2 separate regions of the Homo sapiens genome follow, and region 1 is linked to region 2. The links come from fine-mapping of genetic effects on gene expression. A gene starts in region 2. The other region holds a variant in brackets. All regions are shown on one strand. Distances are from middle to middle.

Region 1 (8,337 bases), 38 kb before region 2:
GGTCTTCATAAAGAATGGTGCCAACAGCATCCTCAGTAGCTTTCCTTTATAGATCCAATGGTTAAATCCACAGAAGACAATTTTCACTTCAAGACAATTGCATCACAACTAAGTAGACAGGCATCACAGCAGGATGGTGACAAGAGACCCCGGTCCCATACTGCCTGAGTTCAAATCCCAGCTCTGCCGCTTACTGGCCGTGTTACCTTGGGCATGCTATTCAACCCTGCCTCAAATGCCTTAGTTTCTCTAATGGTGAGGTGGGGACAATAATAGCATTTGTGAAGATTGAGTTAATAAGTATAGCATTACCACTTATTAATGAAGAGCTCAGTAAAAGCAGTTGGGCTGGGCACTACTATTAGCACAGTTCAAGTACCCAGCTCTCCACTGACCTGACTTGAACTCAAGGCGGTTTCTACAACAGTGTGGTCCCAAAGAACTTCCTGTAAAAATGGAATCTTCTTTACCTTTGCTGCCCAAGAGTACCAGAAATGTGGCTAATAAAGAAATGAATTTCTAATGTAATTTAAACAGCCACAGGTGGCAAGTGGCTACTGCATTGGACAGCATATAGAAAATTTTCAACGTTGCCAAGTTTGATTGGACAGTGCTGCTCTAAAACATCCTCCAAGCAATATTCTCTAAATACTGTTATCAGCTAAGCTTTTAATGAGTGTTGGGTAGCAAGGAACTCCAGATTGTAGTCCTTGACATCTAAGGAGTGTGGCCAAATCTCTGTCCCCAGGTGAATGTAGACACCTATGCCTCTGGCTATGGAGCAGTCTGGTTGTGCTGTGAAAAGTCAAGAATGAGTGGCTGAACAGAATGCCAGCCTATGTGTGCTTTGAGGGGAGCCAAGGCCAAGATCCCCCCTTAGAAAATTGTTTTGAATCTACTTGGAGCACAAAGGAATTAACCTCATCCCAAAGTTCTATTTTAGCACAGCTGGAATTGCTTCGGCCTGAACAATTTTAAAGGTGTTTTAATCAGATACTGGCCTCATTTTCCCCAAATGTTCTATTAACTTTGGGAAAAGCTACTTCCTGGTGTTCACTCCAAGATAAACTATTTGGAAAAGGTACATCAAGATGACTACATAAGGCTGGGCGCAGTGGCTCACGCCTGTAATCCCAGCACTTTGGGAGGCCGAGGCAGGCAGATCACTTGAGGTCAGAAGTTCAAGAACAGCCTGGCCAACATGACGAAAACCCATCTCTACTAAAAATACAAAAATTAGCCAGGCATGGTAGTGCACACCTGTAATCCCAGCTCCTAGGGAGGCTGAGACAGGAGAATAGCTTGAACCTGGAAGGCGGAGGTTGTAGTGAGCCTAGGTCACACCACTGCACTCCAGCCTGGGTGAAAGAGTGAGACTCTGTCTTAAAAAAGATTAAATAAGCTAAGCTATAGAATGGCTCCCAGATAAGTAGGAGTTAACAACTGTCAAAATCAATAAAATGATTTCACATAAATTATGTAATAGAAACACAAAATAAAGGGAAAGAAATTTATAATAAAATGTATATTTCAATATGTAAATGCTCAGGCCCAGCTACATTAGAAGAAACAACGAAGTCATTACTATCTGTAATAGAATTATGTTGATGACTTAATTATAAGTAGCACTGCTGTCAATAACAAGATTTTTGAAAAGCGGTGCAATTCTTGATAAAGTTTTGAACAAAATGAAGTCGAATCTTCCCTTAATTATCTCGTGGTTGTATTCTTGGAAAATTCATGATACATTAAAACTATATACCAGGCCGGGTGGGGTGGCTCACGCCTGTAATCCCAGCACTTTGGGAGGCCGAGGCGGGTGGATCACGAGGTCAGGAGATCGAGACCATCCTGGCTAACATGGTGAAACCCCGTCTCTGCTAAAAAATACAAAAAATTAGCTGGGCGTGGTGGCACGCCCCTGTAATCCCAGCTACTCAGGAGGCTGAGGCAGGAGAATGGCGTGAACCCGGGAGGCAGAGCTTGCAGTGAGCCAAGATTGCACCACTGCACTCCAGCCTGGGCGACAGAGCGAGACTCTGTCTCAAAAAAAAAAAATAAATAAAATAAAAAAATAAAACTATACCAAATAATACCTTGTTTTAAAATGTGAAATGGTTGGGTTTTAGGTTCAGATATCTAAAATTGTTTGTTTTCTAAACACACGAATGTCCAGCAGAACATTCAAGAATCATGTGGGATTTAGAACAATCCTTTGTTAGACTAAACTGTCCCATGCACTGTGGGATGTAAAACAACTATGGTCCCTGCCCACTGATTGCCAGGAGTGGCCCTAATCACTTCTAAAACCATTAGTCCAAGCTCAACATATGAATTCTACCAACCCCACCCCTGCCAATGACTGGTTCATCAATCCAGGCCTAAGTCAACCTGTGTAAGGGTACTGGTTGGTTTGAGAATGGGGTACATGATATCATGTCAGCCAATGAAACAGCTTGTTTGCATCAAAGTTTCCTACGAGGGAGTCACAGGAAAGACGGTCTCTTCTCTATGTGGTGATAAATGGATGTGATGTCTAAAAATTCTGTACTCATTGCAGAACCAGCTGGAGGAAGCAGCCAACAAGGAGGGCAGGGCAAGAGCACAAGGGAACTGGGCTAAAGATTCTGGATGATGTCACCCTTGGGGTCAACCCTACCTTTTTATGTAAACGGGCTTTATGTAACTGGACTTTCAGTTACATAAACAAATACATTTCCTATGGGGTAAGCCGTTTTGAATTCGGATTTTGGTTCCTGCAGCTGAAAGCACTTTGATACATGCATAAACAATTTCACAAGTCAAAGACTGAGGCCTGGTTTTGAAATAAAAACATAGAAACCAAAACAGCAGCAGTGGCAGGTGAATATTGTTCCTGGGCTTCTACACGAAGTGGTAAACCTGTGGCAGGTGCTGCTGATCGGAAGCCTGCATGCTCCACAGGTGAGGGGGCTCCACACTGCCAGCCTGTATAGTTCGTTCATGAAGCTACAGGCGCACTGTGGAAGGAGGACCAAGCACAGCTCACACCTGCAGCTTGTTGCGGGGGATGCATAAAAGGCAAAGAGCTATTCAACCTGAAAAGAAAAAATATAGCTACAGGTATAAAAGCAATGCTATAAGTATTTGTGTACCAAGAGCTCTACAGGATGCTCTGTAGACAGATGGGGTTATAAAAATAGACTAAGTCCCTGCTCTCATGAAGCTTACAATTAAACAAGTTAGAAAGAAAATCATGTTTACAGAGAAACGGATCAAGGAATGCAAAATACAAGTAATAAAACTGAGTGTGGTAAGTGGTGGGGAAAGGAGGGGTTGGGAAGGAGGCAGTCAAGTACGGTTAACTATGGAAGACTTTCTGACAAGCCAGGGTTGGAGCTTGAATATTAAAGCTTCTACCACTGGGAAGATGTGTAAGAAAGGAAAAAAAGTAAGTATATAGGACCACGAGTGGAAAATTTAGTAATGTCCTGCTGAAATGGTATCAGGCGAGGTTCTGGATAAATATGGTTCCATTTCCAGATTCATGAAAGACAGCGGGACAGGAGGAAAGCACAAGCATAATTGGGGCTGGAGCCTCAATCTGGAATCCCTCTTCCACCAGGTCCTACCTGTTTGACCTTGGACAAGTTACTTAGCCATCCCTGTGTCCATTTTCTCATCTTATAAACTGGGGTCATGTAGTGCTCAAGGGGGCGTAGGGTAAAACTTGCATGCTAAAAACTTGCATAATTGGGAGGGGCTTAATTGTGGTAGTTATGATCATCACCCTTAAATCTACGAGCAATTCACTCAAATTAATTTCACAGTATTTATAAGGCAAACATATATGAAACTCAATATACCTAATACATTAGGTTTGAAAAAAAGCTGTGTTTTAAAAAGCAGCTAATTGCAATCCATTACAAAATCCCCAAATTAAAACTATAATACACTAAAAAAAAAAAAAAAAAAGAGAAATCGTGATTAAGGGATATATAAATACATTTATTGGTGGTATTCCTGAATGATGAATGCAGAGAACAGAATACAAAGAAATCAGCACATAAAAGGAACCATTAATCTTTAAAAATGCTATATACTTACATTTTGACCAATTTTGCATATTTGTTTAGATTTACAAACAAATGTAAAGCTAATTCCAAAGTTTTCTTCTGAATATACTTCAAATTTGAATTGTAGTGTTCTCCATTCCAAAGCCAGCTGTTTTTTGCTGGATTTACACCAACTATGATTTACTTTGTTTGTATCTAACCTAAAAGCAAGACTCTGCAAGCTGATCCTGAAGCAGCCAGTTACTCAGGAATTTTACAACAGCTATTAAAGAGAGGATAAAGCCACATGAAAGAGCAAGCCTCAATACTAGATACATAGATACAAGAGAAAATACCAAGAAGCAAAAAGAATCACAGAAATACCAATTCTATTCTAAAGCATAATTTCTAATTCTAGCAGCAATTCAATTAGCAATAGCTTAGGTGCCTTTATTCCAAAAAACAAAACCATTAGTTCTTTCACTACAATTTCCTGACTTTACCCAATAAATAATTATCAAGCCTTCATATTCTTTTTTAACCACTCAAGAACATAATTCATACATTACAGAATCATTAACAAAAGAGGCCTTCAAACATACTGCTGAAAGCTGCAATATAGTTTGAGGGCCAGATTTCAATTTACATAATATTACCATTCATAAAGAGTTTATGACACCCAGTACGATACTGTCCAGCACTGTTAACTCAGAAATGCTCCATCCATTCTTGCCATCAGAGAATTACAGATATGGATGGGATTGTTAAAAGTCTAACAGGGCCTCCAAATAGGATTGCAC[A/G]TGAAATAATTATGAACTATGATAAAACTGTGACAACACAGCTAGCTTATAGAACTGAGTTTTTCACTATAATAGCACTACAGAATTATGACAGTTAAATATCAGAATTATTTTTCCCTGCTAACTATTCAGTAGAAAAAGGATTTTCTGACTGTAATTCTGATGAACTGTTATCTTTGATGACTAGGATACTCGGGAAAATTGGAAAGTGAACAAAATGAACTCATTTATTTTTCACAGATATTAACAAGCAAAGCAGTTTACAAAAAGATCAAAAATTATCCTAAAAACAAATAAATATAAGATCAAATCAATTATCTTTGAACAAAATATAGCTCATTTTCAAAAGTTTTGTTTGGTTTGTGACTAGACTTAAAAATACTAAAATAAGCCAAATAGATGCTAACAATACTAATTTGCACACAAGATTTGAAAAAAGTACTTCAAGTTTTATCTCTTATCCCTAGAGAAAGTAAATAAAAAGTGGCTCTTGCAAAAATAAATGAAAACAAAACCACCAACAAAAACTAATCATATAAGATACTGTTTTTCTTTTTGAATACTTCAATTGGTCCTATATTAGGATAAGGTTTTGATAGCAAGGACTTCCTAGCTTCTTCCTTTATCTTCCATTCTCTAGTCACTTCCGTGTTTTTATCAAACAAGGCTACGTGTAGGCTTTCCTACAAAGTCAGGTTGAGTCAGAGGTAGCGTTAGGATGCAATATACTTGATCATAGTATGTAGTTAGTTCAAATGAACACATCATTATCTAAAAGGATTACAATAATTAAAAATGCAAAAAGAACATGTACTGCCCTCACTGCTTTGCGCTAAGAAAAATTCTGAGAAACTGAGAACAAACATTGGAAGCCAGGAAACAGGCAATTAATTGCCTCATCTTCCATGAGCTCCTTTAATGCACCAGTTCAGGCTGGTTTTCCACGAAGGGTAGCACCCCACTCACATAATAAGCAATGCCAAGAGACAGCAAAGCAATGACGAAGATCAACAGCAATACTCTCCAGAAGCCCAGATCCTCCACAAACTCCTGCCACGTGGTTCGGAAGCTGGAGAGGACTCCTTCACCTTGCTGCAGGTTGGGATTGAGGAGTGAATGGCTTTCCATGGCACTGTGGAAGAAGAAAGAGCAAAAAGGGCATTAAAAAAACACAGCAATTCCAAAAACATAAAACCACAGGGCTACTATTTAGAAAAGACCAAATACACACACACACACACACACACACACACACACACACACACATATATATATATACACACTCTTACATGCTTACGTATCTGAACAATATATACTAAACTGTAAATTGCTAAATGGTAATGAGTATGTTTCTCTTGGTTTAGAATTTAGTAAACTCAAGTTAAAAATTCTATTTAAAAGGTCCTGGCTGGGCGTGGTAGCTCATGCCTGTAATCCCGACACTTTTGCAGGCCAAGGAGGGAGGATCACTTGAGCCCAGGAGTTCGGGACCAGCCTGGGTAACATAGCGAGACACCATCTCTATTTTTTTTTAAGGTGTCCTGAGCAGAAGTCTTGAAATAGGTTATGAGTTGTCTCCATCAAGATATTAAACCACAACACATTCTTGTTATGTTAAATTTAGAAGATTCAAAGTGCAGACTCATAATTTAAGAATGTGTTAATACGAATAAGCAGACATGCAGGTGATGACACCTGAAGAGGACAGTCATCTACAAGTCAAGCAGAGAGGCCTTAGAAGAAACCAACTTTGTGACACCTTGATCTCAGACTTCTAGGCCCTAGAACTGAGAAAGTAAATGTCTGTTGGGGGGAGGGGGGAAGATGAGTAAATCTAAAAAGTCACTTATACAGTGTGTGTGAATCTTGAAGTTAAAAGGGAATTTTTATTAATTTAGTTCAATAATCTGACCAATGAAGGAATTCCTTCTTTAATTGTAATTCTCTAATAATGGAAGGTTACTCCTCAGCCTGTTGTACATGTGGACTCGTCTAGTCATCAGAAATTCTTTTTTTTTTTTGGAGACAGAATCTCACTCTGCCGCCCAGGCTGGAATACAGTGATGCGATCTCAGCTCACTGAAACCTCCACCTCCCCAGCTCAAGCAATCCTCCTGCCTCAGCCCCCCAGGTAGCTGGGACTACAGGTGCATGCCACCATGGCTGGCTAATTTTTGTATTTTTGGTAGAGACAGGGTTTCGCCATGTTGCCCAGGCTGGTCTTGAACTCCTGAGTTTAGGTGATCCACCTGCCTTGACCTCCCAAAGTGCTGGGATTACAGGCATGAGCCACCACAGCTGGCCTAGTCATTAGGAATTCTTAATAGTTTCTTCCTATTGGTGTTAGTTCTATCTTGTACAGTAAGACAGAATATGTTCATTTCTCTTCTGCATAAAGGCTAGTCTAGTTGAAAATAAGGTAGTGCAAATACCATAAAAACACTGATTCTGGTTTTCAGAACTTTATCAATGAGAAATACGACTACCACAAAGAGAAACTGCATCTGACTTTGGTACTTGGAAGCACTAAGGGAAGAGCACTCATGGTTATATCACAACATACAGGCCCAATAAGAGGGTATCATTTAGATTAAAGCCACCATAACCATGATCATAGGAATCAACTATCTACTGGTTATCAAAGTTCATTACTATCCTTCCTAACTCCCATAAAACAGTATCTTAGAGTCTCATTCATTATGAACTATGAATAAACATGCAAAACTGACATTTTTTAACCTACAACTTTATTTTACTTCTTGATACCATCAAACAAAAGTCCTTCAGCCTTTACCAACATTAGAGGTCTTCTCTGATCATGGGAAACTGACTTCCTAATGGGCCAGTCTGCTTAACACCCAAACTTTTTTTTTTTTAATAATTAAAACATGTTTATTCTCTGAATAAGAGATGATGTTTTCAGTGGGAATCTACAACACCACAGTAATTTTGGAACACTTGACAGCAAGTTTAAAAATAAGATTAGAACTTTGAGAAGGCCTAAAAGAGTAAAACCACAAATAGATAACACAGTTCTGCAGAGGCTTAGTTTGACCTATGTAAAATTTATTGATTACGAGTTGACATGCCCTTATACATGTTAGGTATAAAATGAAAATTCCATGAGCATTCTCATTGTTCTTCAGAGCTCATGAAGCTCTGCCAATCGGGATATTCTATAAAGACTTTATCCAATGAAATGCTTTCTACTGTCCAGGGAATATCTGATTCTAACATAATGGGGTGTGTGTATAATCTTTTTTTAAAAACGTGATATCTACACTGTCTTTGGGGGGTGTGTTTGCATGTATCTTTTTTAAAAAATGTGATAGCTATACTGTTTTTGTTATCCCATACCTACAAAGTAAAAAGGAATTAAACTTAGAGTTATATGGAGGAGTGGGGAAATATTTTTCATTAACTTGATTTATAGTCCCTTATAAGGCCTGCAGAAGTTGTGCTGTCTTGGGGGAATCCTAAGAGAAATGGAAAATATTATAGTA
Region 2 (8,298 bases):
AGCCTGGGTGATAGAGTGAGACTCCATCTCCAAAAAAAAAAAAAAAGTACTTATCACAGAGACATAACCATAAACTTAAGTTCTAATAGTACTGAAAGTTATTTTAAATAGAAATCTTTTACAAACATCACAATAGTGTCTTTTATAGAATGCCTAGACAAAACCCAGTTCTCTAATTATTTTCCTTATAGGAAATCTAGAAAAAACCTTCAGTAGAATGGTACTAGTATGACAAATTCAATATTATAGTCTCAGAAGTTCTTTCATTTTTAAAGGATAAAAAAAAAACCAAAAGAAAGTCAACATGGAGTCAGTGAAAAAATTCTACACCAGAAGCAAAGAGGTGCACTAGATCTACATGAAGAAAAGCACACCACTGAGAATTACTTACAATAAGAAAATGAAAAAAATCCAGAAAAATACTGTGCTCTCAGGGACATACAAAAAATTAAGAACTCAGGGTGGGGGAAAAAACAGTATTAAAGAGGACTGGGACTAAAAAAAAAAAGACTATAAGTTAAATAAAAACACAATAGAAATTTAAAATCCAAATTATAAGCAGTAAGGAAATCAGTGATGGAAGGGCCTAACTTAAGAAGCTATGCAAAAGAAAAAAGTTAGAAAGGATGTGTGAGATGACAGCAATGAGAACAAGAAAGGAGAGCCAACCAATGAAAAATTCCTGGAGAAAAAAACAAGAGCAAAACAAAAGGCACCAACTTAATATTTTCCTCAGCTAAAAAAAAAAAAAAAAAAAAAAAAAAAAAAAAAAAAAAAAGATTTCCACATCTAAAGGACCTGTTATCTTTTAGATAAAATTATTGGATTTAAAAAATCAGTAGCTATAACCCTAAACTTTGAAATATTTTAATCATTTTACATCTACAATGCAACAGATGGCTGTATTTGCTATGGAAAAGGCACATTTATCCAGTCAGGATGGTGTAAATCTGGTATTTTACTGCGTACCTTGATTATTTTGTATTTGGGTTTGGACATTAACTTGCTGAGGGCAGAAACAAGAACCTGAACTCATGCCTTAAGATAAAAATTGCATTCTTTTTATACACCTACTACATTTGAAACTATGCAGTGGCTCAATCATGGCTCACTGAAGCCTCAATCTCCCAGGCCCATGAGATGCTTCCACCTCAGCCTTCCAAGTAGCTGGGACCACAGGTGTGTGCTAGCACGCCCAACTAATTTTAAAGTTTTTTGTAGAGATGAGCTCTCCCTATGTTGTCCAGGCTGGTCTTGAACTCCTGAGCTCAACAGATCCTCCAGTCTCGGCCTCCCAAAGTGTTGGGATTACAGGCATGAGCCACTTCGCCCAGCCCACCCAAGCATTTTTATGGGCTCTGAAATGTACTACGTAAAAAGGACACGCTTTATTGGTTTAGAAAGTTAAGTATACATTATTATTATGATCAGCAGTAGGATAGCTATTTTATTTCCACCAGTCATTGATTAAAACAATCCAAGTGTAGTAGGTATTAATCAGTAGCTTAAGCTGGAAATAAAAATTTACTATGGGAACGACTACAGTGCTTTCAAATAACCGACATATGAAAAATTTACAGCTAACCTCTTCCAAAGAGCTGTCCATACTGCAGTCTCCAATGCTCTTCCTCCTGTTGTCTCTTGAAACCACACCAATCAGGTTTTCTTCCTCACTATTCTCCTGAAAGTGCTCTTGCAAGGTCACCAAGGACCTTCCTATTACTAAATCCAATGGTCATCTCCTAGTCTTCATCTTACTTGACTTGTCAATCAGCAGGAGGAGACACAGTTGGTCACTTTCTCCCTGAAAAACTCTTTACTTGGCCTTCAGTACTCCATACTCGCTTCTTTTTCCTCCTACCTTCAAAAGCCTCTCCTTTGTAATTATTCATCTCTCCAATATCTGAATGTGGAAAGCCCTAGAGCTCAATTCTCATTTCCTTACACTAGATCTCATAGGCTCATGGCTTTAAATACTACCCTTCTGTGCAGGGGTAGCCAATCTTTTGGCTTTCCTGGGCCACAGTGGAATAACTGTCTTGGGGCACACATATAACGATAGCTGATGAGCTTAAAAAAAAATACAATCAATCTCATAATGTTTTAAGTAAGTTTACAAATTTGGGTTGCACAAGCTTGCATTAGTGACTTCCCAAATTTCTATTTCCAGTTGGACCTTTCTCTTCAACTCCCGTCTCTATAACCCCACTTGAACAGGCATCTCAAACCTGACTAAAACTGGCTCCACCTACCTTCACACTCAGTCTTCTCCATCTCAGTACACTGTTTAACTAAAGCCTTCCAATAGCTCAGGCCAAAGGCCACAGGGTCGTGCTTCACCCTTTCTCTCATAAGCACATCCAAACCATAAGCAAATCCTATCAGCAATACTCAGAATACGACGGCTTCTTACTGCCTCTCTTACTACCCACCTGGTCTAAGCCACCATTCTCTCTGGCTTCAATTACTGCATCAACCTAACAGGTCTCCCTGCTTCCATCCTTGCCCTTACAGTCAACACTGAACACAGCAGCCAGAGTGATCCTTTAAAAACCTTAAGCCAGATCCCCTCATTCCTCTGCTCAAAACCCTCCAAACACCTCCCTTCTCACTCAGAGTAAAAGCAAAAGTCCTTACCTGGGCCCATTAGCTCTCTGACCTTGTCTCACCCTCCTTCCCTCCAGGTGCTCAAATCTACTGGCCTCCTTGCTGTTCCTCTCTTGCTGTCCCTCTAACAAGACTGAAGGGTTCTGGGCTTTTGCCCTTGCTTGGTATGCTCTTTCCCTAGACAGCTGCATGGCGGTCCCCAACGCCTTCAGTTTTGCTTGAGTCTTTTCCATGGCACCAGTCCTTATTTTAAAACTGCACCTGTTCCTTCCTTGGTGCTTCCTATCCCCCTTTGCTACTTTATTTTTATTCCTAGTAACTGTTACCATCTGACTCCAGATACGTTAACTTTCACAAATCCCGCTTATCGTCCCCAACCCCACCTTCCTCCAGTGACATGTTAGCTCCTGGAAGACAAGGACTTCATTTTGTTCACTCTCACATCCCCCAGTGCTTAGAACAGAGCCTGGCCATAGAAGGCACTCAATATACGCTTGCTATATGAATGCCGAATATGCAAATTCTTAAATCTATAATAGGTAAGGCTAAGAAGTTTGGGACTATAAAGCCCAACTTATTTCCACAATGGGAAATACAATTTCCCTTTTGATAAAGAACTGTGAGAATCCTTTGTTTTCCATAGTAACACAATTTATATAACATGCCAAAAATTCCTTATCACTTCACATCCTCTCTCCAGTGCCTTTCCTGTATTCTGTAAAATATTAACTTACTATCATCAAAAAATCTTTGATTTCCCTCTGGTACTGCTACCATAATAATGCAAAGGCAAAGTGAACTCACTAAAAAATGGTATGGAAACATAAATAATGAAGAAATGTAATAAAGTGTGTTAACAACCAAACAAATTCATCTCTATTTCAAATCAAATTGTACTGGCACAGTGAGAACCCCAGTCCAAGTTTAACTTTATTATCACTATAGTCCTTAATGAGCTAACAGTTTTCTTACTAAACTCCTTTTAAACTAAAAAGGAGTTCATGTAGGACTCCTGCATATAACCATGAAAACTAAGCCTGAGAGAAATCAGTTCAGGCTACAAATCTAATTGATAAAACTCTTAGACAGCGCTACATGTTTGGCTAGATAACAGACGCAGGGATACTGAAGTAAGGGAGATGAGACCAAATCTCGCTCAGCCTTTGCTAGCTTTCTGACCTTGGAGAAGTCAGACTCTCGGTGCCTCAGTTTCCTTATCTGTATAATGGAAATGGTACCTGATAGGGTTGCTTCAAGGATTAAAGGTACCAGGTATTTAAAGCAATGGCACCGTGTCTGACATAAAATAAGCACTGAAAATAGCTATTACTAGAACATAAAAATAATCCCCACACCACTCATATTACAGCTCTTTAAGAGGCTCCTAGGTACCACCGTCATTTTTTAAAGATTGAGAAGCGCTACTATTCAATGGCATATTTTTACCTTATTATGTTCTGTAGCCAATTCCGAATACCGTGGAACGTTACAAAAAACAGATGTTATTTTCTTGAGGTACTGTTGGGAAAACCTCAGAGAGAACGATCTGCTTTTTAGCACTGCAAGCCAATTAAGGGAGGAAGTTTGCGATTACCCGAGCCCTAAGTGGAAGGTGTGCAAATCCTTCCTTTTAACCCGGGCACCCCGGAGCCATGTGCCATTCTGGAGAGCTCACTCACACCCCAACAGCTTGTCCCGGCGCCTGAACTGTGCGCTCCTGCAAGCACACGCCGCGAAAGCACCGTCTCGCCCCGGCCGAGCAGCTGGACCTGCGGCGTGGCTTCCGCGCTCCACCCCCCGATTAACCGCGAGCCAGGGCTGCCCGCGCTGCCCAGGGGTTCCCCGGACCACAGCCCTAACCCGCAAGCGCAAACGAGAACCCTCGCAGGCCTCTGCCCGGCCCTCGTGAACACACAGACCGCGAAGAAGCCATCACGGACCCGCGGTCGCTTCCTCGGCCCGGCTCCCTCCAGTCGCCGCGGAAGGTGTGGGAAGCCCGGGCACCCTCGCCCCTCAGGGCCCCGGCCAGGCCTACTGGACCTCCAGTGCTACAGGGACGGTGCAGGAGATATCAAGTGGCTCTAGCCCAGGCGCTGCCCACAGGCCCCGGGCCAAGTACCTGCGACTCGAACGAGCAGCAGCGACAGCGGCAGCTTCAAGGAGGCGGTGACGGGCGGAGGGGAGGGGCCAGACAGGGGTAGTCGGAGTCCCCGCTGGGCCAGAGCGGTCTCGCGCTGCAGCCCCCGGCGCGCCCCCTGCAGGTGGGCGGTCCTCACGGTGGCTCGGGCTGCTCTGAGTCAGAGACTCCGGGAAAGCCTGCTCTGAATTAGGGAAAGCATCAAAACTGTGGCTTCAGAAGAGAAAGACAGCCTAGAAGAGGTTTATCCGATCTGAGTCCGGGAGCATTTTGCACTTTTCACGTCCTATTCTAAATTCACATCCCATCCCCTTAGCTAAATGGGGGCTTCAAAGGCAAGGGCAGTTTCATTAGGTGCTATAAGCATCAATTAATAGTTGCTGGCCTCTAGGTAGGTCTTCTATAGACCCGAAATTGACATATTAGGAATAGCCACTAATGATTGGCTGCACTATTTCTAAAATATAACCCTGCATTTTTACTTTTTTCAAAAGCAGTTTGAATCTTTTTTTTTTTTTTTTTTTTTAGACGGAGTCTCACTCTGTCGCCCAGGCTGGAGTGCAGTTGCTCAACCTCGGCTCACTGCAAACTCCAACTCCGCCTTCCGGGTTCAAGCGATTCGCAGTTTGAATCCTTCCATCCTACTTTGTAGGGTTCCTTGACTTATTGCAACATGTACAGCCAAGACTAACTAAAAGTGTGGTGGGACATTCATATGCTGGAAACATTCTTTCATGCAAAACTAGTTTTTTCTTTTTTTCATTTTACCAACTCCAGTCCTACAGCCAAGACAACTCTCACTGCACAGTGACCGTCCTCTGAATTCTAGCACCCTCATCCAACCAAGCCACGCTCTATGGCAAACTTGTCCAACCCCTGGCCCACACCTGCAGGCTGCATGCAGCCAAGACAGTTTAGAATGCAGCCCAACACAAATTAATAAACTCTCTTAAAACATTATGAGTTTTTTTTTTTTTGCAATTTTTTTTTAGCTCATCAACAATTGCTGGTGTTAGTGTATTTTATGTGTGGCCCAAGACAATTCTTCTTCCAATGTGGCCCAGGGAAGCCAAAAGATTGGACACCCCTGCTCTAGGGTATCTCATGGTTCATTCATTCAAGGACCACCTACACCATCTAATAATTTGTTCTTGAAAGTGTCATGTAAAGGTTTAGGACTATTGTCATATTAGAGGAAATCACTATTACATTTCTTTCATGTAAGAATTATAAGATCTGGCCATGCACGGTGGCTCACACCTGTAATCCCAGCACTTTGGGATGCTGGGGTGGACAGATCACTTGAGGTCAGGAGTTCGAGACCAGCCGGACCAACATGGTGAAACCTTGGCTCTACAAAAATACAAAAATTAGCCAGGCACGGTGTTGCACACCTGTAATCCCAGCTACTCAGGAGGCTGAGGCACAAGAATCCTTGAACCCCAAAAGGCGGAGGTCACAATGAGCCGAGATCTCACCACTGCACTCCAGCCTGGGTGACAGAACAAGACTCCATCTCAAAAAAAAAAAAGTTATAAGATCTTAGGGCATTTCACATTTTATTGTGCTATGACTAATCAGCAATATTACTTGTTAAATTGATGACATTTATTAATCAGTTTGTTATTGATGTCCTCCTTCTGGTTGTGTATTGAGTTTATAATATCTTCACTGATGCCTATAAACTATGACAAATTAGCAAGGAAATTAAAGCTTTTCCCAATGTATTAATAAGATTTACTCTTCATTAGTTGACTCATCCAACAATCTGAGAGCCTCTCCATTACTTCTATTCAAATTTATCTCTTCCTCTTCATGAATTACTGCTTTTGATTGATATGAAAAAATGTAGGGATGGTGAAGACAGCTTTTTTCTCTGATGAGATTAAAGTGAACTGCATGCTGCACATATTCTATGGCTCCTTCATGTTACCACACCTGGGCACTTTGACACAGTGGCTGTTAGGAGCTGATATGGTTTGGCTGTGTCCCTGCCCAAAATCTCATCTTGAATTATAATAATACCCATATGTCAAGGGCAGGACCAGGTGAAGATAATTGAATCATGGGGGCAGTTTCCCCTATGCTGTTCTCATGAGAGCGCGTGAGTTCTCATGAGATCTGATGGTTTTATAAGGGGCTTCTCCTTTTGCTCAGCACTCATTCTGTCTCCTACCACCCTGTCAAGAAGTGCCTTCTGCCATGATTGTAAGTTTCCTAAGGCTGCCCCAGCCATGCAGAATTGTGATTCAACTGTGAGTCAATCACACGTCTTTTCTTATAAATTACTCAGTCTTAGGTGTTTCTTCATAGCAGTGTGAGAATGGACTAATACAGGAGCATTTGCAGAAGCCATTCCTACTCTCCAGCAATAAGTTAATAGTGCATGGAAGTGACCACGAACCACATGAACGTCTCCCATTAAATGCAAACCAAAGTACCCCCAGCTGCATTTCTGTTTAGCTGGATCCCAAAAATGCCTGTAGTCACTCCAATGTTAGCCAGTAGAAGAATACTCCGGAAGTCTCAGTGGAAAGAGAGAAATCTTAATCAATTGTAGGTAAAGTATTTTAATTTTGCAAGCTTTACAAAAACATATAACCATATCAGCACTGCTTCCCAGGGCCTTGGAAGGGGCCTGAACAAGGGAGGGCTATATATTGGTTTCCTATTGTCATTGTAACAAATTACCCTAAATTTAATACTTTAAAACAAGGATTATTTTACAGTTCAAGAGGTGAGAAGTCCAAAATCAGTTTCGCTGAGCTAAAATCAAAGTGCGGGAAGTGCTTTCCTTCTGGAGATTCTCAGGGGAGTTGGTTGCCATGCCTTCTCCAGCTCCTAGAGGCCACCTACGTCCCTGGCTCATGGCTCCTTTTTCCATCCTCAAAGCTAGCAGTGTAGAGCATTTTTACACCCCTCTGACTTCTGCTTCTGTCCTTGCATTTCCTCTGTGACTCTCCTGTCTCCTTATAAGGACCCTTGTGATTATATTGGGCACACTTGGATAATCCAGAATAATCTCCCTATCTCAAGATCTTTCACTTAATCACATTTGCAAAGTTCTTTTTACCATGCAAAGCAACATATTCATAGATTCTGGGGATTAGGATTAGGATGTGGACATCTTTGAGGATCTGTTATCCAGCCTACCACAAGAGCCCTGAAGCTTAAACTTTACACTCTTCAGGTAAGTCTGCCTCTTCTTCCTCATTACTAAAATCTATCTGGTCCTGAGTTTTGATCGTGAGAGTTCCAATGGCGGAGGAATACCTGTAATTACAACCGAGATAAGTGTCATGAAGCGAAAGAGAAAGGATTCCTTGAGGGCAAACAATATGGGAGCTAATTTAGATAGAAGGGCAACAATGTCTTTGAATAAGTGATATTTAATCTAAGATGCAAAGCATGAGGAATTAATTATGTAATGAACAAGGGAAGTATTCTAGACAGAGGAGACGGTATGTTTGGCCTGTGAATCCTGATGGCAGAAAGCTATCACCTTCTGTGGCAGTGTCTCTACCACTGAATCCTTAGCACCACCACGGTGACTG

Alleles and levels. Positions count from the first base shown, and alleles are read on the strand shown. Sizes are in standard deviations (SD) of each study's normalised expression.
For the expression in esophagus muscle of the gene that starts at base 4,775 in region 2, G is the high allele of the variant in region 1 and A is the other (small effect, 0.20 SD a copy in GTEx).

The links. PIP is the estimated chance that this variant, and not a neighbour inherited with it, causes the effect.
Region 1: its variant is fine-mapped to the expression of ANKRD46 in esophagus muscle (GTEx, PIP above 0.99).

What each region holds. Positions count from the first base shown.
Region 1 is chr8:100,516,806-100,525,142 of GRCh38, forward strand. ANKRD46 (ankyrin repeat domain 46) reads right to left here. Exons shown (of 5, transcript NM_001270377.2): 5 at 3,967-5,966. The coding sequence ends at 5,750. Among named protein-coding and RNA genes, the nearest start is that of ANKRD46, 39 kb to the right of the region's middle. The variant A/G (reference allele first, on the strand shown) is at 4,835.
Region 2 is chr8:100,554,985-100,563,282 of GRCh38, forward strand. It overlaps ANKRD46 (ankyrin repeat domain 46), which reads right to left and starts at 4,775. Exons shown (of 5, transcript NM_001270377.2): 1 at 4,727-4,775. RefSeq lists enhancers at 4,677-4,971, 4,939-5,078 and a silencer at 4,769-4,938.